Homo sapiens: one gene and its partners. The protein of the gene in region 1 purifies or fractionates together with the protein of each later gene. This does not show direct contact. Each region holds a gene or a part of one and is shown in the gene's direction. Other genes may lie near its edges. The genes, in order: SLC13A3, UFD1, CLPTM1 and DRG1.

Region 1 (7,900 bases):
ACACGGCGACCATCATCATCTTCCTGCCGGTCCTGGCAGAGCTGGTGAGGGTCCTTCTGGGGAAGAGGGGAGCACCCCTCCCCCAACACACATTCAGAAATCTTCCCCCGCCAAGGGACCTTCACTGGGGGCCACAGTTGCCATTGCTGTCTTCCAAAATACATGAACGTATCAGAACCACAGTACAATTTTTTTAAATACTGGATGTTTTCCTTCAAAAAATGTATACATAGAGTAAATATTTTCAAAGTGCTCCCAATTCTCTCTTCTGGGAAAATTAACCCATGGTGACATGGAGAGTTTTCTAGAACAGGTAAATTACCAATTTTGGATGAAGAAGAAGTAGAAAATCTGAGTAAACAAATGGCCATAGGAGAAATTCTAATGGAAGCAAAGCAGTAGCCTCCCTCTAAAGCAGGGGTTTCAACACTGTTGATAGTTGGGGCTGGATCATTCTCTGTATGGGGCTGATCCGTGCACTACAGGGTGTGTAGTGGCATCCCTGGGCTCTGCTCACTAGAGACAAGTGGCGCCTCCCTAAATCATGACAATCCAAATGTCTCCTAGCATTCCCAAATATCCCCGTCAGGGGAACAAATCCTTCCCCCTACCCAGCTGATGACTCCTGGGCTAAAAATCACCAGCCCCAGGCCGGGCTCTGCCACTCATGCCTGTAATCCCAGCACTTTTGGAGGCTGAAGCAGGCAGATTGCTTGAGCTCAGGAGTTTCAGACTAGCCTGGGCAACATGGTGAGACCCCATCTCTGCAAAAAATACAAAAAGTAGCCAGGCTTAGTGGCAGGTGCCTGGGCAACAGACCCAGATCCAGATCCTGTCTCAAAACAAAAACAAAAACAAAATCACCAGCCCCAGGTGGTTTGCTGGGTGAGAGCTAGCAGATTTGCAAGGAACAGAGAGTTCCCAACTCACCCAAACTGTTCACCAGCATAGAAAAATAGACATGGCCACTCAATTTATAGCTAGCAAAACCCTGGCCCCAAAACCAGGTAAGGAGAGCAAGGGAAGAGAAAGCTATAATTCAATCTCCTGTAAAAAGAAATGCAAATAGCAAAATGAAACCATGACAGAATGAAAAGAACAATATACACATGATCAGGTAGCTTTTATACTAGGAGTTTTAAAAAGGAAACTATCAATATAGTTTTATATTTAAACAGATTAAAGACCAGACCATGTAATTACCTTAATGTAACCCACGCTGATAAAATTAAATCAATGATGCAAGTAAATGCTTTGTATGCAAACAGTGATGCCCCAGCACACATACCTGCAGCACCTTGTCTTTGGTTTCTGTCTGCTTATTTTATGCATCAATTTATCTGTGTTAGCACACAGATATACACTGTGTTATTTTTCAATGACGGGAGAATATTCCATTATAAATGGACAGTTGTTGGTTTATTTAAGCAATCTCTCTGCCCAATGGAAATATAGGTATTTCCAGACTTTGCTGTTACTCAACAATGACGTGTCACCTGAGCCTTGTCTATGCATTCATTGATTACATCTAGAGAAATTCCTGTGACTGAGATTCCTGGGTCAAAGAGCATGTACGTTTAAAATGTCGTTAGAGATGAGGAAATTGCCCTCCAAAGTGGCTCACCATTTTATAGCAGTATGGGGTGGGAGTCCTCAGAGGGACCTGGTCACTGAGAGAAATGAGAGTATTATAGGGGGTATGGGGACGGAGACGGAGCATAGAACCCAGCCAGGTCTGTAAGGGGCAGCTTTTGCTGGAAAAGACACTTGTAAATGACACATTCTTGTAAACTTTGCTTATCATCAAAATCAAAAAACATTTTACATGCAAGGGGGTGATTTTAGAGCTTTTTGAGAAAATAAATATGCTTTGGGTTGCAAAAATTCCCTAGAAGGCCCAAAAATATCCTATTTAAGTAAAACGCCATAAAAGTGATCAGTATGAATTGTAGGCAGGAGAGGTGACAAACTGGTGGCCCACTAGCTGAGGCCAGCTCATAGGGGGGTTTGATACACACAGTCTTAGAAATTTGGAAGAGCTGCCAACAGATGCTCTCATGAGCTCTCTTTCTCACTGAAATCCAGGGATGCCCCCAACAAGAGGTATCCAGAGGCCAACTCTGGGTTGAGATTGTTTGGCTGAGGGAAGGAGCAGGCAGAGGAAGTATTTTAAAGCCCTGGTTCTCAGTGTACAGTCCTTAGACCAGCAGCACCGGGGGAACACGTCAGGAATGCAGATTCTTGGATCCCACCCCAGACTTGCTGAATCAGCAATTCTGGGTGAGGTGGGGCCAGCCATGTGGGCTTTAACCAGCCCTCCAAGTGCTTTTCTGCACTCTCACATTGGAGAAGGAGTGTTCTAGGTACACCACCCCAGCCCATCCCTGATCAAACCACAGTGTGGCCCTTGAATGTCACTAACCCTGGGAATGTTCTCTCCACCTCTCTCTCGATCTGGTTCTCTTCTTACCTGCTTGTCTCTGTTTCTGCCTGTGCATGTGTCTTTCTGACTGCCTTTCTCTCTCTGTCTCTCTAACTCTCTCTTCTCACTTGTCCCTGTTGTTCTCTGCCACTCTGCCAATCTCTATGGATGTCTTTGTCTCTCTGTCTCTACGTCTTTGTGTCCCTCTTTCCAACTGCCTCTCTCTCTCTCTCTCCCTCTTGCTGTGGTCGCTCTGCGTTGGTCTCTCTCCGGGTCTCTCCCACCTTTTCCTGGCCCAGGCCATCCGCCTGAGAGTGCACCCCCTGTATCTGATGATTCCGGGCACAGTCGGCTGCTCCTTTGCCTTCATGCTCCCGGTCTCAACGCCCCCCAACTCCATCGCCTTCGCCTCTGGACACTTGCTGGTCAAAGACATGGTGAGTCTGGGCATTTCCCAGCAGAGGCCCCGGGATGTGGGTGGGCCGCAAGGGGGCGGGCAAGGCCTCTATGCAGGACTCCTGCACGCTGACCCCACTCCCCAGTCTCTGAATAGATCTTTCTGAGTGGGACCAGGAACATACATTTAGCAGAGACTCTGGGATGATTCCTGCACTTAGACAATCTCAGGAAACACTGCCTTAGTGACTACTTTCCAAAATTTGCTCCAGAGGCAAGGAACTTCCCCTTCCCTCTGGACCCCACTTCGTGCCCAGAATCTTCGGGGGAGAGAAGCAGCAGACACACCCTAGGACTCAGGGGTGGGCCTCAGTGCTCAGCCAGCTGGGAAGGAGACAGAAGCGGAGGACTGTAGCAGTGGGAGGACCCCACCAGCTTTCAGCAGGGCCCAGCCATTGGCAATATGTTCCCTCCCCCGGAAGGTCCCTGCTGAACCAGCTCCTCCCTTCCCGCTCCTGACTCCTGCGGCCTTTTCCCTCTCCACTGGCTTTGCAAATAACCCTTCCAAAGCTGTCAAAGCCAAGACGGGCGACCTGCTTAACCAATCGCGATGCAGGCCCTCCAGGCACAAGACCCCTGCAGGACACATGGGGAGAGAGAGCGAGAGTGAGAGCGAGGCAGAAAGGGAGACACAGAGCAAACAGAGAAGAGACGAGACAGAGACTCATTGATTTGTTCGTTCATTACAGCACTATTTACTGAGTGCATTCTATGTTCCAGCCACTGGGGGCACTGCAGAGTGGGAGAGACACCGATCCGCCTCCTAGGAGGCTGCTTTCTATTGGTGGAGACAGACGTGAACAAGTTCAGCAGATTTTCCTAAATTATGTAAAATTTCAATATTGCTAGGTGCTCAGAAGGAAATAAAACATGAGGAAGTGTAAGAGGACGGGGGAGAGGGGTGGCAGGGAAGCCCTCTCCAGGAAGGTGACATGGGAGCTGATGATCATGGGAAGCCGCCAGCCTCACAGAGAAAAAGGGGAAGAGCAGTCCCAATGGAGGGCACAGCAGGTACAAAGGCCTGGAAGAGAGGAATAGCAGCGAGTGCTCCAGAAATTCAGGGCCAGGAGGCTGGGGTGGCTGCAGTGGAGTTGGAGAAGGATGAGGTTGGAGACACGAGGTCAGGGAACAGCGGGGACAGGACAGACTTGGTATCTTATTCAAACCACAGTGGGGACCCTCGGTAAGCAGGGCAATGATGTGATTTCACTTCTGTCTGTAGAAGATCATTTTGGCTGCTGGCTGGAGTGAATCGTTAGGGTGGGAGGGACAAGTGTGGAAGCAGGGAGGCTACTTAGAGAAAAAGACTGAGAGGGCAGCAATGCAAACAGCATAGATTTGGAGAATAAAGACAGCCAGAGAAATGGAGAGTCCCCAAGAGGTAGAGACTTGCAAGAGATGTGGAGGGGTACAAGGGGCACCCCCGGTCAGCCAGTCCCGGGCAGGGATGGCCCACCTGCAGGTTCGCTCCTGAGAGTAATGAGTTAGGTGTTAATGAAGTAGCTAACATGGGACCAGCAGGAATTTTGAGCCCTGGCAAAGGGAGACCCAATCCTCCCCCAGTTTCCCCAACATGTCGGCCCGACTCCCTCTAATCCTCCGAAGGTGCCAGGGCTTCCACCTCTGTGCCCTTAGAAGAGAGGCAGGACAGCACACGCAGTATGTCCCCCACCCGTCCGTGGTAATATTTATTTAACACCTTTACTAAATCAGCTTGACATTAAAAAAAAAAAACAAAAAAAAACTTGAATAAGAATATTCCAGAAGAAATGTTTCCAGTGCATCCATCAATGGAAAACCGGTATTATTAATATATGCCATGGCCAGTAAACCTAAAAATAAATGCAAAGCGGCAAAAACAAAAGAATTAAGCTCTCCCTGATAGCAGCTGCCTGGAGAAGGTTCTGGGCCTCTCCTTGTTAAAAGGGCAACTGACAGGAGCAGAGAAGTGCTGAAGCCATGGTGGCCCCTGTGAACCCCAAAAATCTGAGACAGGTCTCAGTAAATTTAGGAAGTTTATTTTGCCTAAGTTAAGGACATACGCCTGTGACACAGCTTCAGGAGGTCCTGACGACATGCACCCAAGGTGGGTGGAGCACAGCTTGATTTTATACATTTTAGGGAGGCATGAGACATCAATCAACATATGTAAGATGAACATTGGTTTGGTCCGGAAAGGCGGGACAACTCAAAGAGGGCAGGGGGCTACCAGGTCATAGGTATATAAGAGACAAATGGTTGCATTATTTTGAGTCTCTGATGAGCCTTTCCAAAGAAGGCAATCAGATATGCATTCAACTCAGTGAGCAGAGGGATGACTGAATAGAATGGGAGACAGGTTGGCCCTAAGTAGTTCCCAGTTTGACTTTTCTCTTTAGCTTAGTAATTTGGGGGCCCCAAGATTTATTTTCCTATCACACCCCTAAGAGAGACTTTCTCTGGGAGGAATAGACAGAAAGAGAATTAGAAAGGAAGTAACTGTCTCACCATGTGATTCAGCCTGGGCTATGTGAAGGCGGGGCAGCCAGAAGACCCAGGTGGGAAAACAAGGATTTTCAGCCCAAGGTGGACTGAATGGTCCAAGAGGCCAGCCAGGGTAGGGAGCAGATGGGCACATTCTCCACCGACAGAAGAAAAATGCTTCCCAATGGACAAGGGTAGTCTTGACTAGGACTACCTGACTGGACTGGACCTGAAGTGTGTGTGTGTACCTATGTGTACATATGTGTGTTCCTACATGCATGCGTGTGTGTGTGCATGCGTGTGTGTATATGTGTGTGGGATGGGGGTGTTTAGTGATCAGACAAGATTATTTTCAAGTTAGGTGACCTTGGACAAGTCAACTTCTCTAGGTCTCATTTTTCTCTTCTATAAAATGGGGATTAATAAGAATGACCTTTGTAAGGTTGCTTTCTGGGTTAAACAGCATAACCCTGTGACAACTGCGTAGCACACAGTGCCTGGAACCTAGAGGCCATCAATGAATGGGGACACTTGCAGCTCTTTGAGTGACAGCCTAGGGTAGTGTAAAGATTGAAGGGTCCCAGGCATTTACCGACCTGGGTCTGTGTCCTGGCTCCATCACTTCCTGGCTGTGCGATCTTGGGTGAGTGACTTCCTGTCTCTGAGTCTGAATGTTTCCATCTGTATGGTGGGTCAGGTGCTGACCCCTCCCTCTGTCTGGGCTCTATTTCAGGTGCGGACAGGCCTCCTGATGAACCTGATGGGTGTCCTGCTGCTCAGTTTGGCTATGAATACCTGGGCACAGACCATCTTCCAGCTGGGCACCTTCCCGGACTGGGCTGATATGTACTCGGTCAATGTCACAGCATTGCCACCCACCTTGGCCAATGACACATTTCGGACCCTCTGAGTCCCCCTGGAGGACTCCCTTGAGGCTGAACCCTCTCAAAGGGCTGTCACCATCACCTGCTGCTAGGACACTACAAAACAATCAAATAATTCTTTTCTGTAATCCAATATGCAGCAAGCAAGGGTGACCTCCAGTGGCCCACTCAAGTCCATGAGCCATTATCTAGGATACTTTCTCTCTCTTTCATGCAGTTCAAAGCCCAGGTATCTCTCAGATCTGCTGCCTGAGAAATAAGCTCCTTTATCAGTTAGCTGTTTTATCATTAGGATACAAGACAGCCCAGTGTCATCAACAGTGAGCAAATCTGGCATGGTGTTTGTCTCGTACAGTTGGGATAGGAGGCCATTCATTCCCATGGGCACAGCTAACATTATCCCCCAGTGATTACTTTCGATTACACTGAAGAGACCACCTTGTCTTTAAAGATCACTTTCCTGGGCTGCAATGTTCCAACCCAGTTGTTCCAGCTGTTCACAACCAGTGTGTGATTTTGCTTAGTTGGTGCCCATTCTGCACCAGTTGTTTTACCCCTGCCGATAACCAGCAGTCAGAGATTCTTTTTTAATCCTTGGAGACAGGGAAAGGGACAGATAGCTTTCCAAGGACATGAGACTGTGCAAAGCCTCTTTGCTGTTTCTCTGGGCTCCTGAGCATACCAGGGGAAGTTCTAGAAACCGCAGCTGACATCTCGACCCAAGAGATTTAGGATTCTCCTGTTTCATCTGGGTCAGTTTGGCCATAATTCTGGGGTCAGGCCAGGCCTGGGTCCTGCCCTCCCATGGGGTGACTCATGACCCCTCCAGCCAGGACTCTCCTACATGTGGCCCCCATAGGCCTCTGTGGCTGCAAGGCGGTCAGTTGCTGCTTGTCCCAGCAGGTGGCCTTGATCTCTCCATGCCCCACCTTAAGTGGTAAGCATGTTTAATTATCAAAGGCCCCATTTGTCAGGGGTGAGAGAAAAGTCAAAAGATAAATTGGGGCCTTGTAAAAGGCCAGGGTAAAATGTCTCAGGCAAGCAAAAGATTGTCCCCTTCTGCATATGGGTAAAACTGAGACGTCCCCGTGAGCCCGAGGCTGGAAGTGGTGTCTGCCTTCAAGGGTTAATCCCTCTTTGTTCCAAGCAGAAGCATTCTGGCATCCCAGTGAAGAGCTCAGGCCCTCAGGAAGTGTCTGCTGAATGGAATGGCCCAGCATTAGCCCAGTATTGGAAAAGACACCAGCCCAGGGGCCCTGACTCGTCACACTTCCCTTTCCTAAGCCTCTGAGGGTGGAGATTCCCCTAGGAGCGCTTGGCCAGCTGGGAAGGCAGCGCCCAGCTGCACTTGTTGTTGATACAGCATAAGTGAATCATGGGCATTTCCCTGAGAGCAGTGGGAGAGGCCCTCTGAGTTGGAAGTTGAGCTCCACCTCCTTTCCAAGTGAGCACTCAGTGTTGAATCACAGTTACAACCCACTGGGGCTGGTGGGAGATGCGTTGTATGGGACTGGAAGCAAGAGGTTCATTCAAAGAGAAACTCATGGGATTTGTAACCAGATGAATCATGATTTCTAAGACTTCTGATCAAAAATACTGTGAAATAAAGAATGTTAATCAACTTTGGACCTGGAGATGATTTGCCTTTCTGAACATAAGAGAGCTTCAAAGCCCC
Region 2 (7,900 bases), on another chromosome or scaffold:
ACCAAACATCTTTCCTGAGCTCCAGACCCCCATTTCTTTTCTTTTATTTATTTATTTATTTATTTTTTGAGACAGAGTTTTGCTCTTAGCGCCCAGGCTGGAGTGCAGTGGCGCAATCTTGGCTCACTGCAACCTCTGCCTCCCAGGTTCAAGTGATCCTCCTGCCTCAGCCTCCCGAGTAGCTGGGATTACAGGCACCCGCCACCACGCCCGGCTAATTTTTTGTATTTTTAGTAGAGATGGGGTTCCGCCATGTTGGGCAGGCTGGTCTTGAACTCCTGACCTCAGGTGACCTGCCTGCCTCGGCCTCCCAAAGTTATGGGATTATAGGCGTGAACCACCATGCCCGGCCCAGACCCCCGTTTCTAATCTCCAGTGCACCAATGCATCCTCAGCATGTCAAAAACTGAGCTATTGTCTTCCATCCAGAAGCCACTCCTCTTGCTGGGCTCCTGCCTCTTACCAGGAGTGAGATAGGCCCACAGGGGTTCTAAGAGTGGCCACATTCTTCCTCCCTTTTCTCTGACCCCTTATCCCATGAGAGCAACCTGGAAACCCATGCCCTAGCCCCATACTACACAGGCACAGAAAATCCCTATCATGGACAACCCAATCAAGGATGCAGTCATTGCCTTCCAGACTTAAAGAGTGTTTCTGGTGTGAATTCTTCCTGTGTGAGGCAGGAGACTGGGGTTGGCCAGGAGGACAGGTTCATGCTTGGTTTTGGGGGCCTCTGGTGGCAGCAAGCAGAGAACAGGTGCTGGCTGTGGTGTGACTCACCTCGGGCTCTTTGCCCAGCCTGACTCCAGAGTAGCAACTTGACCTCTCTGAACCTCAATGTCCTCTTCTTTAATTGGGGATATCTACAGTGTCTGTGCATCAGAAGTACTGTAGTGTCTGTGACAACCTAAGCTATCCGATTCCAACCACAAGGTGGAGGTAGCCCCTGAGCCAGCACTGGCTGTGGCTATACCCAGTGGAGGCCTCAGCTCAACCAGTAGGTCAACAGAGCTATGGAGTTCACAGTTCTCACGAAGACCCTGTCATTACAGAGGAGAGAACAGGCTCCCTAAAAAGGTCTTCCTTTCAAGTCATGCTGACCCAGGAGCCAGACACCAGGGGTGACCCTTGGCACAGGTGTCCAGAAGAGACTCAGGGGCTGGGTCATTGAGGTGTAGCTCAGATCAGTGTTGTTCAAATCTTTTAAGTGATGGGAGAAACTCTTTCTGTCTAAATCTTATAGGAAGTCCTCTAATTCATAAAATGAGGTTCTCTGCTTTTTTTGGAGAAAGTGAGGGGGTACAGAGGGACTGGGAGCCCCAGGGCACTGGGAGCCTCTAAGTCACAAAATGCAGTTTGAGAGTCAGTGGACTGAGGGACATTGGAGTCTCTTTCACTTGCAACAATCTCAGACCCTTGGCTGAGCCCAGTCCAGTTTACTGTGGACCAGCTGTATGTCAGCTCCATGGCTGTGCAGCTGAGAGGTGGACCGGGACAGAGGTCCTGGCCCCTTTACTGCCAGTGTGAGAGTCACCCTTGGTGATAGGAGGGAGTGCCCACCCTTACTGTACCTCCATGCTACTCTCAGAGGTTCTCTGTAGCTTCCTGCCCAAGCTTTTAACTTGATTTGCTTTATTAGAATTTTTAGGGAGATCTCAAATGGAATCTGCGTTACTTCCTAACACTAAGTGTGATTTTTATTGGAATATTTGTCTGAACTAACAAGCTAAATTCTGCTTTGATGGTTGAATCCCTGGACTTAAGCCAGCAGCCTTGGTTTGAATCCTGGCATCACCACTTGTGTGCTGTGAGGTCTTGTGTGCTCACCACTTGTGTGCTGTTACTTAACCTGTGGGCCTTAGTTTCCCCATAGATAAAAGGGGATAATGATAGTACCTACCTGACTGTTCTGGGAAGACTGAACAAGGGCCTTACACATGGCAAACACCATCACTACCATCAGTTCCTTCTCGGTCTTCTCCCGGGGGCCCAGTGTCTCCTGGGTTTTCCTGCCTCTTTTTGCCAGCCCTTCCTTTATGTGCCTGTGCACCTCTTGGGTCAGCACGTCACCAGTCCAGCTTACTTGCCTCTGGCCTTGCTTTCAGCCCACACCTCAAGGTCCATCAGAGAGAGGGGGCGTCCTATGTCATGACCCTGCTGAGAGCTCACACTGCCCGCTGGGCCCAGGCCCTAGGTTCTACCCCGTGTGGTGCCCCTCCCCTTCCCAACCACTCGCACACCTGTCCCCAGCCTGTCTTGCCTAATTATCCACCATTTCTGAACTGCCTGGGCTCCTCTTCCCTTCCACGCCTTTGCTCAGGCTGCCACCTCTGCCTGGATTTCCTCCCAGGTCTGCCCGCCCAGTGCCCAGCCTAAAGAACTCGGCCTCTAGGAGCCTAGCCCAGTAGCTCTGCCCCCTCCTGCCAGCTCTTCCCACAGCACCTGCAGCATCTGGTTGTGGTTTTCTTTGTTGGAAGGTTTCTACCTTCAAACTAGAAACCTTTGAAGGTCGGGATTTTGTCCAGGGCATGGTGGGCACTGAAATTATTTATGAATAAATGAATGAACACATCACTTTTTAAAATGTTGACTTCAGAAAATCACAAGTCTATGCCAGTGCTGTGTTACCAAGTTGCCAGGTTCCTCCTTGAGCCGTGCACTGTGCTCTCACAGAGGGGGATTCATCTGCCAGAGGAGTGTGGGGTTGAGGGCAGGATTGTGGGGAGGCTCCTTCTATGGGAAGGCGTGGGCCGAACAGGTGTCCCTTCATAGGAGCTGTGCCTCATAGTCTCTCTCTTATTTTCAGGCCGACTTAACATTACCTATCCCATGCTGTTCAAACTGACCAATAAGAATTCGGACCGCATGACGCATTGTGGCGTGCTGGAGTTTGTGGCTGATGAGGGCATCTGCTACCTCCCACACTGGGTGAGTGGGGCTGCCAGGGTCTCTAGAGAGCAGCCACTTAGGCAGAGACATCTCCTGCACTCGAGAGTCCTGGCCCTGGAGCAGGTGGCCCCGCCTACTCCTCCTGCTCAGCGTCTTAGCCTGAGCCGACCCAGCGAGAGAGAAGGGATCCAGAGCAGTGCACTGTGCCTTATGCGGGCTGGTGGGCTCTGGACGCACCTGTGGGCCACTGTGCTGTGGGAGTGGCCTTTTCTTTGATAGTTGCGCAGCTGAACTGTTCATCTGTGATTTCCTGGGTGAGGCGTTTTTAAAAATAATGGAGCAACAGTATTTTTTAGGTGGTCTAGTAAGTAGGGTGTTTGAGGTTTTTATGCTTTTCCCCTACTTTTAGTAGTCTGTCACAGCATACATGTTTTCAGTTACCTCTGACGTAGTCTCCCAAATCTCTCAACTGAGCTGCCATGGGAGTGACGTCTTTTTCCTTACAAGCAGGCTCTCTTTGGAAAGTTGACTTGAAGGATGTCATTGCAGATCTGGGCTGGGATATCCAGGGCGTGTGAGCCACCAGAGCCTGCCCTCAAGGCTGTACCCCTCAGAGAAGTGAGCAGAACTGTGCCAGTGCTGTAGGGAGGAGCCTGCAGCAGTGAGAGTTCCACACAGGTAGCTGTGGCCCACTTGGCTCCTTCTTCTCCTCACTCCTCTCCCCAGCTCTGGCACATTAGGGAAGTTCACAAAGGGACCTGCTTGTCCTTCTCTTTGTGCTTGGATTACATCAGGCATACTGAGAGACCCCGCAGTGAGCTGTGGGCTGGAAACTCTCAGGAGTGCTTGCTTGGCTGCCACCAGGGAGGTGGTCTGAAGCACAGCCCACCTCTCCTGCTGATGCCCTATCATGGTGGCCGCCAGACGTTCAGAAGGGATGGCCTTAACTAATATTTTCTGAGATTAAATATGAATTGAAATTCTGGCCAGGTACGGTGGCTCACGCCTCTAATCCCAGCACTTCGGAAGGCCAAAGTGGGCAGATCACTTGAGGTCAGGAGTTCGAGACTAGCCTGGCCAACATGGTGAAACCCCGTCTCTACTAAAAATACAAAGACTAGCCGGGTGTGGTGGCACGTGCCTGTAGTCCTAGCTACTTGGGAGACCGAGGCAAGAGAATGGCTTAAACCCAGGAGGCTTAGGTTGCAGTGAGCCGAGATCATGCCATTGCATTCCAGCCTGGGCGACAGAGCGAGACTCCATCTCAAAAAAAAAAAACAACAATAATATGAATCAAAATTCTGAAGGTCTCTTTCCTGCTGTAGCAGGTGACCTTGCCCATGCTGCCATGGTAGTGGCATCCTCTTCAGCCTGGGTCCCAGGGTCCTTCCCAAGGTCTGGGCCTGGCCAGTGTCTCCCCGACAAGAGCCCTGCACTCCCATTGCACCTCCTAGTGCCTGGCCTTCCCATGCTGCCTCCTCACCTCAGCTGACTAGGCCTGCCCAACCTGGCCTGTTGGGGGGCTTTTATGCCTCAAAGCCCAGATTGGCTCACCTGCCCTCCCCAGTATTTGCTGCTCAGCCCCTTGCTATTCTTGTGTTTGTCTGCAGGTGCCCCCAAGGGCCTGAGGCCACATTGTGCTCATCCGGTAGAACACCTGGTCACTGAAGCCACTCTAGGTAGCTGAAGTGTCAGGCAGTGACTACTTCCCCAGTCCCTTCTGTGGCTCACCTATAAGAGGAGGTGGTGATGCTGGGGATACACTGTATCTCGAAGGTTCTCCTTTAACCCATAGACTTGAAGTTTGGGTGGCCTCTTGTCCAAGCTGTTGGACTGCTTTAGACCAGGAAACTAATTGAACCCTTTCTCCCCTGGAAAGCCTCTTTAGGTAGCCTGGAGCTGGTTTGGGGTGTGAAGCCATCAGGCCACCTCTTCCCCTGAGCTGGCCTTCCAGCTCCTGGCATGGGCAGGCGGGTGACAGGTATACCCCATCTGCTGTCTTGGAGGGCATGTGAGCCAGTGCTTTTTCTGGGCTGGCTGGTGGACTCCATCCCACCCATGCTCCCAAGCTTCTTCAGGGCGAGCCAGCCTGGAATAGGTACTGGCCTTTTTCCTTGTAGCCAAGGCTTCGTCTGCTGACCTAGATCCGAGCCCTGGACTAGCCGTTTGTGACATGTGGGTACTCGGCTGCCCGTTGTGCTGTATGCTCTAAAATGCTGCATGGGGAGGGCCAGGCATCAGCTCCTCCTGCCTGCTTAGTGCTCTCAGGCCTCTTCCAGCAGCCCATTTCTCACCTCAAGCCCTAGTCTGACCTCTCTGCCTGTCCTCCTCACATCACCTATGGCAGTGTCCTGCCTCTGGCTGAGGAAGCCACCCCCCATCCCTGGCCAGCCTTCCCTCAGGCTTGCAATTGCAGCCCAGTATCCTTCCCCTCGCTGACAAATTTCCCACAAAAATCTACCCAGGGACAGTGCGCCTGGCCTGCGACTGGCTAACTCTGAGCCTTAGAATACTTCCTGTTAGAACATCACTCCTGGGGATGCCAGACCCCCGTTACCAAAGCCAGTCACCTCTGCATCCTTCTGTGCCTGCCTGTGGCATTTGGTAGAGTGACCACCCTCTATTTCTGCCCTTACTAGCCTGACAAGCAGCTGTCAGCGTGAGTGCATGGGGTCCTCTGCAAGCCTATCCATAGGGCCCACCACTCAGGCTTCACTCATGGCCTAGGCACGGCTTCCCAGGCACAGCCTCGGCCTCAGCATGCCTCTCCCTCCTCATGAGCTCCCTCTCATTTGTGACACAGCCCTCAGCCCCCTTTTCCCTTGGCTGTTAAAGTCACCTTCTCACTGCCACTCCCGATGAAACATTCTTGAAGGGATGTGATACCTGGGATTTGCTTCAGGGCATCTAATGTGGCTTGGGACTGGGTGTGAGGTAGTGCTGATCGATGGACTGAGCCACGACGTGAGCACTGTCCAACTGTCAGGGCTCGGTGCGTGGGAGCTCTCTTCTACGGCTCTTTCTACTGATGTATATGTCTGACACCCCTTTTAAGACGGTTTCAAATAAGACAAGCAAAATTTCATTGCAAGAGACATAGAGCTTCTGACCTGAGTCTGGACTCCCTGCACACCCAGTACTCATGGGCATTGTTTATCTCTTTCCGTCTCACTTCTCAGCCGTCGTCTACCTGGCTGGGTTGTTTAATAGAGACATGTGGAGGCTTTGTCAGATTTTTATAACCTCCTTAGCAGAGACCTCTGGGGTCTGTCACCATCTTGCAGCCTCAGCTGTGGTGGGCCATTCCATTGCCAGGTCAGCCTTGCCTTGTGCTGCTTTTGTCCTACCTCAGGTGCAGCCCTACTTGACGCAGGGCCTTATAATTTGCTTGTGGGACAGCTTGGAAGTACAGTGAGTGACTATTCCAGGAAAATGCTCTGCCCCTGGGAAGCCTGGAGCTAGTGAGTAATCCGGGCAGCCCTGCAGAGATGCGTTCACACTGTGAGCTATACAGCTTCAGTAGCACCCCTTTATTGGCCTTCTTCCTTCCACATCACTTGATTTTTCCCTCCTTCCTGACATAGTATCACGAATTACTTATCTTGGCTCAGGTTCCTCTTCCAAGGACCCAAGTAAGACGGGCCTGCCCAGTGTATAGGGAGCAGTGGTTGTGGAGGCTGCTTCATCTCTAGGAGTCTCATGTAGCCTCTTCTTCCTTTCAGATGATGCAGAACTTACTCTTGGAAGAAGGCGGCCTGGTCCAGGTGGAGAGCGTCAACCTTCAAGTGGCCACCTACTCCAAATTCCAACCTCAGAGCCCTGACTTCCTGGACATCACCAACCCCAAAGCCGTGTATCTTTTTCAAATAAGCGGAGTTCTTCTAGACAAAGGAGAGTGTGCTGGCGGTTGTTAAACATCATGTACTGTATTGAATCTGTGCCTGCTTTGGGGATCACACATTTGTGATTCAAGTTGTGATTTGAGAATAATGGGGTTCAGCTAGCACATCTGCGTGGCCCTGGCCAAGTGCACTGGGTGCTGTCTGGGCCACCTCTGTCACTTTCCAGACACTTCATGGAGACCACAATGAAGCCCTTCTTTCAGTTGGTCTGTGTCACCTGGCACAAAGCCAGGATGCACAGTATGTCCAGTGGAAGGAGGGAGCAGCTTATCTGCCTTCAGCTCCAGCCCCTTCTGTGGCTCCCTAGTACCTCCGCCCAGCTGTGCACTGGCCCGTCAACCTCACTGCATGCCAGCCTGAGAGCTGATTCACTCCAGGCCAATAGGTAGCAATGACTGCAGTTTCTATGTCACCAAGCAGAAAGCAAAGGTATCAGGTTCTAGTGGATTCTTTTTGTTCACCTCTGAACTTAAGCCAGGTGTATGTGTTGACAGCATCAGGAAGTAGGCAGTGCAGGTACGGGACGGTGCTGTGTGCACCAATCAAGATCTCTAGCTCCATGGCCCTGATTTTTCCTGTTACGATCATGGCATAAGAGTGGCCACTCCATTCTACTTCTTTTTTTTTATTTTTTTTTAATGCATACTTGAAAAAAAAAACAAACAGTCAAACAACACAGACAGATAGGAAGTTAAGAAAAGCTGCCTCCTTTCCCAGTAGCGCTCTCTCCGCATGTTTTCTTAGGAGCAAGGCACTGCTGGGTGTGCTCTGGATGCATATGGGCCATGTATATTCTTTGCTGCCTATGTTCTGGACACGATGGCCTTGTTGAGCCTCCTGTCCCACAGGCAGGGGGATGTCCTATGGGAAGAGCTAGTTAACTTGTCCTTCAGAGCTCTGACCTAGACATGCTTGTTTGGCTGTCAGTGACCAGGAATGGGCCATGCCCATTTTCTCAGGGTTTTTACATGTGTTGCAATGCAGACTTTTTTTTGAGACGGAGTCTCACTCTGCTGCTCAGGTTGGAGTGCAGTGGCACGGTCTCAGCTCACTGCAAACTCTGCCTCCCAGATTCAAGTGATTCTCCTGCCTCAGCCTCCTGAGTAGCT
Region 3 (7,900 bases), on another chromosome or scaffold:
CAGGCGTGAGACACCGCGTCCAGCCATCATTCTTTTCTTTTTGAGATGGGGTCTTGCTCTGTTGCCTAGGCTGAAGTGCAGTGGTGCAATTACAGCTCACTGCAGCCTCAACCTCCTGGGCTCAAGCAATCTTTTCACCTCAGCCTCCCAAGTAGCTGGGACAACAGGCATGCACCACCATGCCCAGCTAATTTTTTGTAGAGATGGGGTCTCAACATGTTTCCCAGGCTGGTCTCAAACTCCTCTGCTCAAGCGATCCTCTCACCTCAGCCTCTCAAAGTGCTGGAATTACAGGCATGAACCACCCCACCTGGCTGGACTTTCTGACCTGCACTGAGAGGTGACTCCCACAGAGACCTCAAGCCCAGCCCCCAGGCCTTGCCACGAGATCCAAGGAAGGACCAGGGCCTGGCAGGCCCAGCAGGGGGATCTGCTTCCAAGGGCTTGGATCTAAGTCGAAGCTTCAGGGTGGGGTCCAAGTGGACTTAAAAGGCAGGAGAGCTGGGCACAGTGGCATGTGCCTGTAGGCACAGCTACTCAGGAGGCTGAGGTGGGAGAATGGCCAGAGCCCAGGAGTTTAAGACTGTAGTGTGCCATGATCGCAACTGCAAATAGCCAGTGCACTCCAGCCTGGGCAACACAGGAAGACCCCATCTCTAAAAAAGATAGGGAGAGTGAGGAGAACACAATGTGGCCAACTGAATTCGAGCTCTGCACAAGGATCAGAGAGGTTCAGTGCTCGCCTTTGTCTCCACCCAGTGCCCCTGGACAACTTGCCTCCCTTCTTGAAGCCTCAGTTTCCTCATCTGGATCAAGTGAGAATAGTCCCCCTTCCCTGGGAGGCAAGGAGACTTGATGAGATAATGAGGAAGACTTGGGCAGAGAGGGGCCAGCTGGAGGTAGCAGGGAGTAGCACCCAGGAGCCCACAGACTGGGTTTCCATCTGCGTACTTGCCACACACTATGTGACCCCTTGGCATGAGCCCCGTTTGCCTCATCTGCAAAATGGGGTGGTAACATGACCCATTGCATAAGGTTGACATGTTATATGTGTGTTAACTCGTTAGATTAGGAAGCTGTTGTCTGAAGTGCCCAGGGCAGGGTCTGGCCCATAGTAGGAGCTCCATGTCGGTCAGCTGCTTCTTCCTGTTGAGTGAGCTTAACGAGAGCTCGTTGACTGAGCTGTGTGCCAGTGCTCCAGGTAGTCCCTGCAGTGGTGCCCTCGGGTCAGTGCTGTGGGAACTTCGCATCCTCTAGGTGGGGCCCTGAGGCTCAGAGAGAAGCTGAGCTCACACGGCCATGGCAGGTAGAGCGGGCGTCTGAGTCTGTCTGACTCCAGCATTTACCTCTCTGCCACCCAGCTACATGCCCCACCCTGAGTACTCAGTAAATGGCCAGAGAGTTGAGGGGGAGGAAACTGCTGCAGATGGGTGCCAGGCAGGGCTTTAACGTTTCCCTCACCCCAGTTGCCCAGCCTGCCCACCTGACCTTCCGTCTTTTGCAGAGCGTCCAGCAGAACGGCTCCATCTACATCCACGTTTACTTCACCAAGAGTGGCTTCCACCCAGACCCCCGGCAGAAGGCCCTGTACCGCCGGCTTGCCACAGTCCACATGTCCCGGAGTAAGTCGCTCCCCTGCAGCCAGGACCCACTGTCCAGGAGGCCAGCATCCTGGGAGCCCCCAGGCTAATGTGGCGGACAAATCCCAAGTCCAGGAGGGCAGGCAGGAAGCCTGTGCTCAAAGAGGGTGGGATTGGCAGGGCAGGCTCAAGCCCCACCCAGCCTGAAAGAGCCCTGTGGACACTAAGCAGGGATACCCACGGAGGAAGGGAGACCCACGGAGGCTCAGGGACCAGAGAGAAATTGGCCAGAAAAAGCAGCTGGAGACAGGGACTCTTGGAGAGGAGGAGACGTCCTTCACCAAGGGGGAAGGGCCAGGGTTGACTTTTGCACAGTAGGGGCCTGATAGAAGTAGACACTCAAAAATAATTTGTGGGCTGGGTGCAGTGGTTCATGCCTGTAATCCTAGCACTTTGGGAGACAAGGTGGGCAGATTGCTTGAGCCCAGGAGTTTGAGACCAGCCTGGGAAACATGACAAAACCCTGTCTCTACCAAAAAAGACACAAAAACTAGCTGGGCGTGTGCCTGTAGTCCCAGCTGCTCAGGAGGCTGAGGTGGGAGGATCGCTTGAGCCCAGGAGGTGGAGGTTGCAGTGAGCCAGAATCACACCACTGCACTCCAGCCTGGGTGACAGACCGAGAACCTGTCTCAAAAAGATAGATAGAGGCCGGGCACAGTGGCTCACGCCTGTAATCCCAGGACTTTGGGAGGCCGAGGCGGGTGAATCACAAGGTCAAGAGATAGAGACCATCCTGGCCAACACGGTGAAACCCCGTCTCTACTAAAAATACAAAAATTAGCTGGGTGTAGTAGCATGCTCCTGTAGTCCCAGCTACTTGGGAGGCTGAGGCAGGAGAATCGCTTGAATCCAGGAGGCGGAGGTTGCATTGAGCTGAGATCACGCCATTGCACTCCAGCCTGGTGACACAGCAAGACTCCGTCTCCGTCTCAAAAAAAAAAAAAATAGATAAAATTCAAAGAACAGTGTGGGCAACATAATGAGACTTCGTTGCTACAAAAATTAATAGCCAGGTATGGTGGTGAGCACCTGTGGTTCCAGCTACATGGGAGGCTGAGGTGGGAGGATCGCTTGAACCTGGGAGGTCAAGGATGCAGTGAGCTGTGATTGCACTACAGCTTTCCAGCCTGGGCGACAGAGCAAGTCCACGTCTCTGAAAAAACAATAGTAATAAAAAATAAGACTACCACTTCTACTCCCATGATAACTCATTAATCCATTAAACCACTAATCCATGAATGGGTTAATCAGTTCCTGAGGGGAGGGTCCTCATGACCCAGTCACCTCTTAAAAGCCTCATCTCTCAGTACTGGCACATTGGGGATTAAGTTTCACTGGGAGTGGGGAGTACTAGAGTACATCAGTAGTCCCAGCTACTTGGGAGGCTGAGGTGGGAGAATCAGCATGAGTTTTGGCCAGGACAAACATTCAAACCATAGCATTGTCCGTCCTCTTGTTTTCGAGAAGTTAATAATTGTTGTCATCTTTCTGCTTGCCTGGCTCTTTTTTTTTTTTTTTTTGAGACAGGGTCTCACTATGTCGCCCAGGCTGGAGTGCAGTGGACTATCTCAGCTCACCACAATTTCCACCTCCCAAGTTCAAGCGATTCTCCCACCTTAGCCTCCAAAATAGCTGGGACTACAGGCACACGCCACTACGCCCGGCTAGTTTTTGTATTTTTAGTAGAGACGGGGTTTCGCCATGTTGGCCAGGCTGGTCTCAAACTCCTGACCTCAAGTGATCGTCTGCCTCGGCCTCCCAAAGTGCTGGGATTACAGGTGTGAGCTGCCACACCCAGCCTTGCTTGGTTCTCTGTGAGCTTTTTCCCTGAGTCCTCTGTCTCCTGATGGGCAGCCGTAGAAATCTCTTGCTGTACCTGTTTGAGCGGAGCTGGAGAATGGCTTCCTCAGAAAGCCCCCCATTCTTCTAACGGGAGTTCTGTGTACTCCACCTAGCTTTCACTTTATTGAGGACTATTCCAGACATTCCCTGTGGATTTGGTTAAGATCCATCTGGCTGGTTTTGGGTGGCGCAGCAACAGACAGAATTCTATTTGTATGAGTTAGGTCTTACCTACTTCTTTTAGTACAAAAATATCCTAAAGGATGGTAATTTTTTTTTATCACCTATACTGGATGAAATGAAAAGTTGACTCTATGTGGGTCCCTAGAAATGACTTGGAAAGGTCTTCTGGAGTTACTTGAGCCCCTTTCTGAGTGAGTGTGTCTGAAGAATGTGCTGCGTTGGTATGTCCCACCCGGCTGACGTCCATGTGGTGAGATCTTTGGAGAACCAGGCAGAAGTGGCTTGAGGGGGTGTGACCTACAGGGTTGGTCTCACAGATGTTTCCCTGCAGGGGGATACGTCAGGGGTCTGGGCTAAAATGCCCGATGTTTCAGAGGTCGCTCTGAAGGTGACCCAGGTGGGTGGCTCTTCACCCTATTCTTGTACCCCGTTTGACGATCACCTAATCATCCCGTTGACCCAAATCGATGCCAGTATTTTCTGCAGTTTTGTCTTTGGTGAGTGTGATCCATGTCACTGTGTGGTGAGGTTTATTCACAGTCAGTCTGGTCTGTAAAATAGAACCTGCAGACAGTGAACCTGAAAAGCATACTAGGATCATCCAGGCCTCCCTCCCCAGCCTTGGAGCTGGGACCCTCAAAGCAGGGACATAGAAGGACTTGGAGTGAGCCACCCACAAACTCCAGGGTGAAGGAGAGTGTGAGTTCAGAAAAGCCCCCTTTTGGCTGGTTGTGGTGGCTCATGCCTGGAAACCCAGCACTTTGGGAAGCCAAGGCAAGCAGATCACTTGAGGTCAGGACTTCGAGACCAGCCTGGCCAACATGGTGAAACCCTGTCTCTACTAAAAATACAAAACTTAGCTGGGCATGGTGGCACATGCCTGTAATCCCAGTTACTCGGGAAGCTGAGGTGGGAGAATCTTTTGGACCCCGGAGGCGGAGATTGCAGTGAGCCGAGATCGTGCCACTGTACTCTAGCCTGGGCGACAGAGCAAGACTCCATCTCAAAAAAAAAAAAAAAAAAAGAAAAGAAAAGCCCCTTTTATCCCCAAGAGGCCAATAATCAGTATTCTAGAGCAGCTCCGTCCCATGGAGATAGGATGTGAGCCAGAGAAGGCATTAAAATTTTTCCAATAGAAAAATACTAAAGAGTAAAAAGGTAAAGAGAGGCCAGGCACGGTGGCTCATGCCTGTAGTCCCAGCACTTTGGGAGGCCAAAGTCAGAGGATCGCTTGAGCCCAGGAGTTTGAGGCCAGCCCTGGCAACATAGGGAGACCTCATCTCTACAAAAAAAAATTTTATTTTATTTTATTTATTTTATTTCATTTTATTTATTTATTATTATTTTTTTTTGAGATGAAGTCTTGCTCTGTTGCCCAGGCTGGAGTGCAGTGGTGCAGTCTCGGCTCACTGCAAGCTCTGCCTCCCGGGTTCACGCCATTCTCCTGCCTCAGCCTCCTGAGTAGCTGGGACTACAGGCGCCCGCCACCACGCCCGGCTAATGGTTTTTTTGTATTTTTAGTAGAGACCAGGTTTCACCGTGTTAGCCAGGATGGTCTTGATCTCCTGACCTCGTGATCCACCCGCCTTGGCCTCCCAAAGCACTGGGATTACAGGCATGAGCCAGCGCGCCTGGCCTATTTTATTTTATTTTTTTTTGAGACAGAGTTTCACTCTTGTTGCCCAGGCTGGAGTACAGTGGCATGATCTTGGCTCGCCACAGCCTCCACCTCCCAGGTTCAAGCAATTCTGCCTCAGCCTCCCAAGTAGCTGGGATTACAGTCATGTGTCACCACGCCCAGCTAATTTTGTATTTATAGTAGAGATAGGGTTTCTCCATGTTGGTCAGGCTGGTCTCGAACTCCCGACCTCAGGGGACCCACCTGCCTTGGCCTCCCAAAGTGTTGGGATTACAGGCGTGAGCCAAAAAATTTTTTTAAATTAGCCAGATATGGTGGTGCGCAACCTGTAGTGTCCTCCGACTCAGGAGGCTCAGGTAGAAGGATCATTTGAGTCCAGGAGGTCAAGGCTGCAGTGAACTGTGATCAGGCCACTGCACTTCAGCCTGAGCAACAAAGCGAGACCCTGTCTCAAAAAGAAATATAAATAAAATAATAAAAAGGTAAGGCCAGGGCCGTGATGGCTCACACCTGTAATCCCAGCACTTTGGGAGGCCAAGGCTAGAGGATTGCTTGAGCCTAGGAGTTCGAGACCAGCCTGGGCAACATGGCAAAACCCCCCCTAATAAAAATACAAAAATTAGCCAGGCATGGTGGCACATGCCTGTAATCCCAGCTACTCGGGAGCCTGAGGTAGGAGGATCACCCAAGCCCAGGAGGTTGAGGCTGCAGTGATCACACCACTGCACTCTAGCCTGGATAACAAAAGGAGACCCTGTCTCACAAATAAATAAATAAAAAGGTAAAGAAAAACCATGAGATTAATATCAATAATAGTTTAATTGAGCTCAACATATTCTCGTTTCAACATATGATCAGTATAAAAAGTGAGATATTTTACATTTTTGTTTCCCCTTGTGTCAGTTTTCAGAATCTAGTGTGTGTGACTGGGCACGGTGGCTCACATCTGTAATCCCAGCACTTTGGGAGGTTGAGGCAGGTGGATCACTTGAGGCCAGGAGTTTGAGACCAGCCTGGCCAACATAATGAAACCCCAGCTATACTAAAAATACAAAAATTAGGCGGGCATGGTGGCTAACGCTTGTAATTCCGTCTACTCGGGAGGCTGAGGCAGGAGAATCACTTGAACCCAGAAGGCAGAGGTTGCAGTGAGCTGAAATCGTGCCACTGCACTCTAGTCTGGGCGACAGAGCGAGACTATGTCAAAAAAAAAAAAAAGGGTCTAGCGTGTGTTTTATATCATAGCACTTCTTGGTTTGGACCAGCCATATTTGCAGTGCCCAGTAGCTGCATGTGGCCAGCAACCCTGATACTGGATGGTGCAGCTCTAGAAGATTTTCCTCCAAGAAAGGGGGGCTTTTTCCTCCCCACAGGAGCCAGGTCCATCTGGTCTGGATGCCTCCAAGCTGCAGAATGTGTTCTTTGCCTGAGCCAAAGCCTCTCTCCCCTGTGCCTCCCCCTCCACCAGCCAGCGCTGCCCTCTGGGGCTCTCCCTTCCCTGGACAGTCTCTGTCAGGTGTGGACACGATTGGGGCATGTCCCCCTGGAATTTTCTCCAAGTCAACCCTTGAGTGTTGGTTTCTCCCCCTGGACACAGGAGGAAGATCCCCAATGATTTAATAATCATAGAAATGATGAGGATTGGCCAGGTGGCTCAAGCCTGTAGTCCCAGCAATTTGAGAGGCCGAGGCAGGTGGATCACTTGAGGTTAGAATTTGAGACCAGCCTGGCCAACATGGTTAAACTCCGTCTCTACTAAAAATACAAAAATTGCTGGTCATGGTGGTGGATGCCTGTAATCCCGGCTACTCGGGAGGCTGAGGCAGGAGAATTGCTTGAACCTAGGAGGCAGAGGTTACAGTGAGCTGAAGTCATGCCACTGCTCTCTAGCCTGGGCAACAGAGTGAGACTCCATCTCAAAAAAAAAAAAAAAATGAGGATGACGTTTCTGCTAATAAGCAGTAGGCCCTGGGCCAAGAAGTGGTGAGGCTTTTCTTCCTTCTTTAGGGAAGTGACATCACTCACCAGCATCCCTTAGCTTGTAGGATTCAGAGCCAAGATTGCCCCCAGAGCCCCCGCTGTTGGCCAGGTCTCTTTCCCCTTTCCCTGTCTCTCCCTGGCCCCAGGGGACAGGATAGAGACTTGAGGGAGGGCAGACTGAGTTTTCCTTCATAGCATAAGGAAGAGCTGAAAAGTCCCCGGGCTCAGTGGCTCACGCCTGTCATCCCAGCACTTTGGGAGACTGAGGTGGGCAGATCACGAGGCCAGGAGATTGAGACCAGCCTGGGCAACATGGTGACACCCTGTCTCTACTAAAAATACAAAATTAGCCGGGCGTGGTGGTACACGCCTGTAGTCCCAGCTACCCAGGAGGCTGAGGTGGGAGAATAGCTGGAACCTGGGAGTCGGAGGTTGCAGTGAGCCAAGATCACACCACTGCACTGCAGCTTGGATGACAGAGCGAGACTCTGTCTCAAAAAAAAAAAAAAAAAAAAAAAAAAAAGAAAAGAAAAAAGAAAAATACTTAGCTTCTTTTCGGGCCAGGTGCGGCAGCTCACACCTGTAATCCCAGCACTTTGGGAGGCCAAGGTGGGCA
Region 4 (7,900 bases), on another chromosome or scaffold:
TCTCGAAAACCCCGGGCTCGAGAGTCTCTCTCTTCTCAGCTTCCCGAGTAGCTGGGACTGCTGGCATGTACGACCATGGCAGGCTGATTGATTTTTACTTTTTTAGGGGTAGAATCTCGATATATTGCCTAGGCAGTGATTGTTGTCTTACTGTTTTTCAAGTATTTCTCTTAAATTCTATGTCTAATATGATATCTACTAGTTACATGTGACTAACATTTAATTACAATTGAATAAAATTTAAAATTTAGTTCCTCAATTATGTAAACCACATTTTATGTGTTTATTAGCTACACTTGACTAGTAACTACTGTATTGCACAGTACAGATGCAGAATATTTTCATTATTACAGAAACTTTTATTGGATACCACTGCTCTCGATATTAATTCCTTGTCATCTTTAGACATTATAAATATCTTCTCCCGTTAATTTTGTCCAAGGTGGTATTTGTTGAATAAAAATCCTTAATTTTGTTAGAATCTACACTTTATTTGTAGCTGGGACCACAGGTGTGTGCCACCACGCCTGGCTAATTTTTTTGTATTTTTAGTAGAAACGGGGTTTCACCATGTTGGCCAGGCTTGTCTAGAACTCCTCACCTCAAGTGATCCGCCTGCCTCGGCCTCCCAAAGTGCTGAGATTACAGGTGTGAGCACCTGGCCTACTCTTTATTTTTTCTTATGGTTTGTGCTTTTAAAGTTTTATTTAAGAAGTCCTTATCTTTCCTTAGGTCTTAGATATAGTCTCCTGTTTTTTCTATACTTTTAGGTCCTTTATTTACCTAGAGACTACTCTTATATCTGATATTAGAAGGGTATCCAATTTTAATTTTCTCTGTATAATGGGTCACTTTCCCCAACACCTTCTTTTTTTTTCCCCTTTGATTCGTAGTGACTGCAAACTCTTCACCTATATTGTCACTTCCTTCATTATGCCTTGTCTCTAACATTATAGCCCCATAACTGGCCTTCTTGCTGCTATCCTACTGCTCTGTAGTATCTTCTCACTACAGCTAGTATGATTGTGTATAAGAAGTCAGATCAGTCCAGGCACGATGGCTCATGACTGTAATCCCAGCACAGAGGCAGGCAGATCACTTGAGGCCAGGAGTTCCAGACTATCCTGGCTAACACGGCAAAACCCGATCTCTACTAAAAATACAAAAATTAGCTACTTGGGAGGCTGAGATGGGAGGATCACTTGAACCTGGGAGGCGGAGGTTGTAGTCAGGTGAGATGACACCACTGCATTCCAGCCTGCGTGACAGAGTGAGACTCTGTCTCAAGAAAGCAAACAAAAAAAAGAAGTCAGATCATGTCATTTGTTGGCTATACCTTCTGATGTTTTCCCATATTATTTGGGATGAGACCCAAAGTCTTAACATAGCTTACAAGCTACGGTAAATGACCTGGCCCCTGGCTGCCTCTCTGACCTCCTTTTCTATCACTTCAGTCACTGGGCTTAAGATATCACTGGCCGTCCGGGTGTGGTGGCTCACAGTCTGTAATTCCAGCACTTTGGGAGGCCAAGGTGGGTGGATCACCTGAGGTCAGGAGTTCAAGACCAGCCTGGCCAACGTGGTGAAACCCCATCTCTACTAAAAATACAAAAATTAGCCAGGCATGGTGGCAGGTACCTGTAATTCCATAGTCTGTAATTCCAGCACTTTGGGAGGCTGAAGCAGGTGCATCACAAGATGAAGAGATCGAGACCATCCTGGCCAACATGGTGAAACCGCGTGTCTATTAAAAATATAAAAATTAGCTGGGCATGGTGGCGTGTGCCTATAGTCCCAGCTACTCAGAAGGCTGAGGCAGGAGAATCGCTTGAATCCAGGCGGCAGAGGTTGTAGTGAGCGGAAATTGCACCATTGCACTCCACCCTGGTGACAGCAAGATTCTGTCTCAAAAAAAAAAAAAAAAATAGCTGGATGTGGTGGTATGCTTCTGTAGTCCCAGCTGTTCGGGAGGCTGAGGTAGGAGGTTCTCTTGAGCCCAGGAGGTCAATCTGCAGTGAGCCATGATCATGCCACTGCACTGCAGCCTGGGCAGCACACAGACACCCTGTCTCAAAAAAAAAAATAATAATAATAATAAGGCCGGGCATGGTGGCTCACACCTGTAATTCCAGCACTTTGGGAGGCCGAGGCGGGTGGATCACCAGGTCAGGAGATCGAGACCAACCTGGCCAAGGTGGTGAAACCCCGTCTCTGCTAAAAATACAAAAATTAGCTGGGTGTGGTGGTGCGCGCCTGTAGTCCCAAGCTGCTCGGGAGGCTGAGGCAGGAGAATCGCTTAAACCTGGGAGGCAGAGGTTGCAGTGAGCCGAGATTGCACCACTGCACTCCAGCCTGGCGACAGAGCAAGACTCTGTGTCAAAAAATAATAATAATAAAAATAAAATCATGGCTGCTTGGTGGCTCATGCCTGTAATTGCAGCACTCTGGGAGGCTGAGGGGGGTGGATCACTTGAGATCAGGAGTTTGAGACCAGTCTGGCTATCATGGTGAAACCCTGTCTGTACTAAAAATACAAAAAGTAGCTGGGCATGGTGATGCATGCCTGTAGTCCCAGCTACTTGGGAGGCTGAGGCAGGAGAATAGCTTGAACCCAGGAGGCGGAGGTTGCAGTGAGCCGAGATCACGCCATTGCACTCCAGCCTGCATGACAGAGCAAGACTCCATCTCAAAAAAATAAAATAAATAAAATAAAATCAGGCTGGGCATGGTGGTACATGCATGTAATCCCAGCACTTTAGGAGGCTGAGGCGAGCGGATCACCTGAGGTTGAAAGTTTGAGACCAGCCTGACTAACATGGAGAAACCCTGTCTCTATTAAAAATGCAAAATTAGCTAGGAGTGGTGGTCCATGCCTGTAATCCCAGCTACTTGGGAGGCTGAGTCAGGAGAATTGCTTGAACCCAGGAGGCAGAGGTTGTGAGCTGAGGTCGCACCAATGCACTCCAGCCTGGGCAACAAGAGTGAAACTCCATCTCAAAAAAAAAAAAAAAGTCTACCACTGAGGCTGGGCATGGTGGCTCACGCCTGTAATCCCAACACTTTGGGAGGCCGAGGTGGGCAGATCATGAGGTCAGGAGTTCAAGACCAGCCTGAACAACATGGTGAAATGCTGTCTCTACTGCATCTCAAAAAAAGAATGAGGGGTCAGGGTCAGGTGCAATGGCTCATACCTGTAATCCCAGCACTTTGGGAGGCTGAGGCAGGAGGATCACTTGAGGCCAGGAGTTCGAGACCAACCTGGGCAACATTGCAAGACCCTGTCTCTACAAAAATAAAAATTAAAAAAAAGAAAAAAATAGCCATGTGACATGGCACACATGTGTAGTCCCGGATATTCAAGGAGACTGAGGCAGGATGATCAGTTGAGCCCAGGAGGTGGAGGTTATAATGAGCTATGATCATGCGACTGCACTCCAGCCTGAGTGACAAAGCGAGACCCTGTCTCTTCAAAAAAGAGAATTTTAAAAAATGAGGAACTAGAAAGTTGATGGAAGCAGAATATTTTTTTTTTTCTGAGATGGCGCTCTGTTGCCCAGGCTGGCTGGAGTGCAGTGGCATGATCTCGGCTCACTGCAACCTCTGCCTCCCTGGTTCAAGTGATTCTCGTGCCTCAGCCTCCTGAGTAGCTGGGATTACAGGTGTCCACTACCATGGCCAGCTAATTATTTATTTATTTATTTATTTTTGTAGATGGATTCTCGCTCTGTTGCCCAGGCTGGAGTGCAGTGGCGCAATCTCAGCTCACTGCAATCTCTGCCTCCCGGGTTTAAGAGATTCTCCTGCCTCAGCCTCCCAAGTAGCTGGGACTACAGGCATGTGCCACCACATCCGGCTAATTTTTTGAATTTTTAGTAGAGATGGGGTTTTACCATGTTGGCCGGGATGGTCTCAATCAGCTCACCTTGTGATCCTCCTGCCTCAGCGTCCCGAACTGCTGGGATTACAGGCGTGAGCCACTGCGCCGGCCAGTTTTTCTATTTTTAGCAGAGACAGGGTTTCACCATGTTGACCAGGCTGGTCTCAAGCTCCTGACCTCAGGTGATCTTCTCGCTTCAGCCTCCCAAAGTGCTGGGATTATAGGTATGAGCTCCCGTGCCCAGCTGGAAGCAGGATTTTTGACAAATGAATTTTAATATAGAAAAAGGCCAGATACTGTGACTCATGCCTGCAGTCTCGGCAGTTTGGGAGACCAAGGCAGGAGGATTGCTTGAGGCCAGGAGTTAAAGGCTACAGTGAGCTATGATCATGCCACTGCACTCCAGTCTAGGCAATAGAGCGAGACTCTGTCTCTGTCAATATAAATATATATTAATAAAAATAAGATATGCAGGCACAAAAGACTACTTTTTTTTTTTTTTATACAGATTGAATCTTACTTTGTTGCACAGGCTGGTCTCAAACTCCTGGCTCCAAGCAATCCTTCTGCCTCAACCTCCCAAAGTGCTAGGATTACAGGCATGAGCCACTGTGCTAGGCCAAAATAATATATTTTATATGATTCCATTTATATGAAATTCTAAAACGTGCAAACTATGGTGGCAGAAAGCAGATCAGTGGTTGGCTGGCAATAGTGGGGAAGATTGAAAGGAGGCACAAAGGAATGCTGTAGGTGATGGAAATATTCCATGTCTTGATTGGTTTGGTGGTTACACAGGTATATACATTTGTTATTGAACTGTGTGCTTTAACATGGATACAATTAAAAAAAAATTGTACCTCAATAAATTTGGTTAAAAATTTGCTAACCAAGGGTGGGCGCAGTGGCTCATGCCTGTAATCCTAGCACTTTGGGAGGCTGAGGTGGGCGGATTGCCTGAGCTCAGGAGTTCGAGACCAGCCCAGGCAACATGGTGAGGAAACCTCGTCTCTACTAAAATACAATTAGCCAGGCATGGTGGCATGTGCCTGTAGTCCCAGCTACTGGGGTGGCTGAGGGAGGAGAATCGCTTGAACCCGGGAGGCAGAGGTTGCAGTAAGCCAAGATTGTGCCACTGCACTCCAGCCTGGGCAACAGAAAATGTGTCAACTCTTGGGCAAATAGGTGCTGATTTCATGGCATACAAAGCAAATTGACTTCTGGTATAAATCTTCTGTAGCTATAAGAACTTCACGTATGCATGTATGTATTACAGAAAAATCCTTTGACACTTAAATGTAGGGGGAAAAAACACCTCTACTTGAGTATTTGGGTTAGTTAAGGCTTTATTGAACTTTCTTGCGTATGTTTTTTTCTTACTCTTCAGTGGCCCGAACCTGTAACTTGATCTTGATTGTTCTGGATGTCCTGAAACCTTTGGGACATAAGAAGATAATTGAAAATGAGCTGGAAGGCTTTGGCATTCGCTTGAACAGCAAACCCCCCAACATTGGCTTTAAGAAGAAGGACAAGGGAGGCATTAATCTCACAGCCACTGTAAGTGGGGAATATGACATGGGGCAGGCTGCTGCAGGAATTGGAATGGGGAGTGGATTGGGGTGCATGGACCCTGACATTGGAAAATTTCCTGGCTTTTCCCTGCACTAATTGAGATAACACAATGACTTTATAATGACTGACAAGAAAAACTTCAAGATTAGGATAGGAGCCAGTCTCAGACTTACCTTTGCTACTTATTTCCTCTTTTGGATTATCTATTGGGAATGATATGGGCGTGTGGACCAATATTATGCTTGCATAAAGTAGATGGCCGCCAATATCTTCTGTTTTCATTCATTTAACACAAATTTATAGAGTGCCTACCACGGGCCAAGCATTATTTTAGGCTCTGGGCAGGAATGGAAGAGGGAATAGTGAAACCCCCTGCTTTTATATTCTAATTGGATAGAATAGAAAACAATGTTAATGAGTAAAATATAATGTATTCGTCAATGATAAATATAAGAACACAAAGTAGGGAAAGGAGATAAGAGTGTTGGTGTGAGGGTTGCAGTTTTAAGAACGTTGGTCAGGGAAGTCTTTACTGAGGTGACATGAAGGTGTGAACCAAGTGGATATCTTGAAGAAGAGCATTTGCTTCATGCCTCAACCTCCTGAGTAGCTGGGATTACAGGTGCCTGCCATCGCACCCAGCTAACTTTTGTATTTTTAGTAGAGACGGGGTTTCACCATGTTGGCCAGGCTGGTCGGTTTCATTCTGTTGCTTAGGCTGGAGTACAGTGGCACAATCATAGTTCACTGTTAGCTCAAAACTCTTGGGCTCAAGTGACCCTCCTGCCTCAGCCTTCTAAGTAGCTAGGGCTAAGTCACATGCCTCCAGGCTTGGCTAATTTTTTTTTTTTTTTTTTTTTTTGGTAGAAACGGAGATTTGCCATGTTGCCCAGGCTGGTCTTGAACTTTTGGCCTCAAGCTGTCTCCTGCTTCGGTCTCCCAAAGTGTTGGGATTACAGGTATGAGCCACCATACCCAGCCATGTTTTTTATTTCCTGAGCTAAAAAAAAAATGAACTCTTATTACTAAAATGGTAGGACTTTTGGTAGAATAGATTTGGAGGGAAGGAGAAGATCAGGATGTTAAATTTTAGATGCCAGTGAGACATCCAGGTATTTCAGTCAAGAGGGCATGTGGGGTAGGCTGGGCATGGTGGCTCATGCCTGTACATCTATAATCCCAGCACTTTGGGAGGTTGAGGCAGGAGGATCACTTGAGCCCAGGAGTTCAAGACCAGCTTGGGCAACAAAGTGAGACCCCATCTCTATAAAAATAATAAAGAAGGCATGAGGAATTATCTAGGCTGGATATATAAATTTGGTGATTATCAACTTTAATGTCATGGGCCTAACTGAGATCACCAAGGATGTGAGTATAGATAGAAAAGAAAAGAGAGCTGGGTGCAGTGGCTCACACCTGTAATCCCAGTACTTTGGGAGTCCGAGGTGGGCGGATCACAAGGTCAAGAGATGGAGACCATCCTGGCCAACATGGTGAAACCCTGTATCTACTAAAAACACAAAAATTAGCCGGGCATGGTGGCACGCACTTGTAATCTCAGCTACTCGGGAGGCTGAGGCAGGAGAATCGAACCCAAGAGGTGGAGGTTGCAGTGAGCCGAGATGACGCCACTGCACTCCAGCCTGGTGACAGAGCGGGACTCCGTCTCAAAAAAAAAAAGAAAGAAAGAAAGAAAAGAAAAGAGAATCGGCCAGGCACGGTGGCTTACGCCTGTAATCCCAACACTTTGGGAGGCCGAAGTGGGCAGATTACATGAGGTCAGGAGTTGGAGGCCAGCCTGACCAACATGGCAAAACCCTGTCTGTACTAAAAATACAAAAATTAGCCAGGCGTGGTGGCACGTGCCTGTGATCCTGGTACTTCGGAGGCTGAGGCAGGAGAATTGCTTGAACCCAGGAGGCGGAGGTTGCAGTGAGCTGAGATCGCGCCACTGCACTCCAGCCTGGGCAACAAGAGCAAAACTCCGTCTCAAAAGAAAAAAAAGAAAGAAAAGAGACTCAGAGAAATAAGACTTCTTAGACCAAGAGAGAGAAGGAAAACTGAAAGAGTTTGAAATACTGGAAGCCAAGTAAAGTGTTTCACATAGGAGTGACCAATTCTGTCAAATGCTGCTTCTCTGTCAGAATTGAGGACTGAGAGTTTCCTACTAAATTTAACACTTCAGAGCCCAGATGATTTGACTGGCATAGGTTTCAGCTGTCCTGCCCAAAACATCTTTCCCATTATCCCGTCTTAATATTCAAATTTGAACATTTAAGATTATTTCTGTGTTAGTTTCAGTGCTGCCATAATACGGTACCACAGATGGGTGGCTTAAATAACAGAAATTTATTTTTCATAATTCTAGAGGCTAGAAGTCTGAGATGAAGTTGATGGCAGGGTTGATTTCTTCTGAGGCTTCTGTCCTTGGCTTACAGATGGGACTTCATA

Evidence for each region.
Region 2: the proteins of SLC13A3 (region 1) and UFD1 purify together in Homo sapiens (affinity purification with mass spectrometry; one large-scale study listed by BioGRID and IntAct). This does not show direct contact.
Region 3: the proteins of SLC13A3 (region 1) and CLPTM1 purify together in Homo sapiens (affinity purification with mass spectrometry; one large-scale study listed by BioGRID and IntAct). This does not show direct contact.
Region 4: the proteins of SLC13A3 (region 1) and DRG1 purify together in Homo sapiens (affinity purification with mass spectrometry; one large-scale study listed by BioGRID and IntAct). This does not show direct contact.

What each region holds. Positions count from the first base shown.
Region 1 is NC_000020.11:46,558,373-46,566,272, reverse strand, and holds part of SLC13A3 (Na(+)/dicarboxylate cotransporter 3), read left to right. Parts: coding exon 1-44; intron 45-2,721; coding exon 2,722-2,859; intron 2,860-6,074; coding exon 6,075-6,251; 3' UTR 6,252-7,900. UniProt on the Homo sapiens protein: High-affinity sodium-dicarboxylate cotransporter that accepts a range of substrates with 4-6 carbon atoms, such as the citric acid cycle intermediates succinate and alpha-ketoglutarate (2-oxoglutarate), as well as other compounds including N-acetyl-L-aspartate.
Region 2 is NC_000022.11:19,466,715-19,474,614, reverse strand, and holds part of UFD1 (ubiquitin recognition factor in ER-associated degradation protein 1), read left to right. Parts: intron 1-2,806; coding exon 2,807-2,928; intron 2,929-6,611; coding exon 6,612-6,742; intron 6,743-7,900. UniProt on the Homo sapiens protein: Essential component of the ubiquitin-dependent proteolytic pathway which degrades ubiquitin fusion proteins.
Region 3 is NC_000019.10:44,975,839-44,983,738, forward strand, and holds part of CLPTM1 (putative lipid scramblase CLPTM1), read left to right. Parts: intron 1-1,504; coding exon 1,505-1,622; intron 1,623-7,900. UniProt on the Homo sapiens protein: Involved in GABAergic but not glutamatergic transmission. Binds and traps GABAA receptors in the endoplasmic reticulum (ER).
Region 4 is NC_000022.11:31,414,992-31,422,891, forward strand, and holds part of DRG1 (developmentally-regulated GTP-binding protein 1), read left to right. Parts: intron 1-5,264; coding exon 5,265-5,434; intron 5,435-7,900. UniProt on the Homo sapiens protein: Catalyzes the conversion of GTP to GDP through hydrolysis of the gamma-phosphate bond in GTP. Appears to have an intrinsic GTPase activity that is stimulated by ZC3H15/DFRP1 binding likely by increasing the affinity for the potassium ions.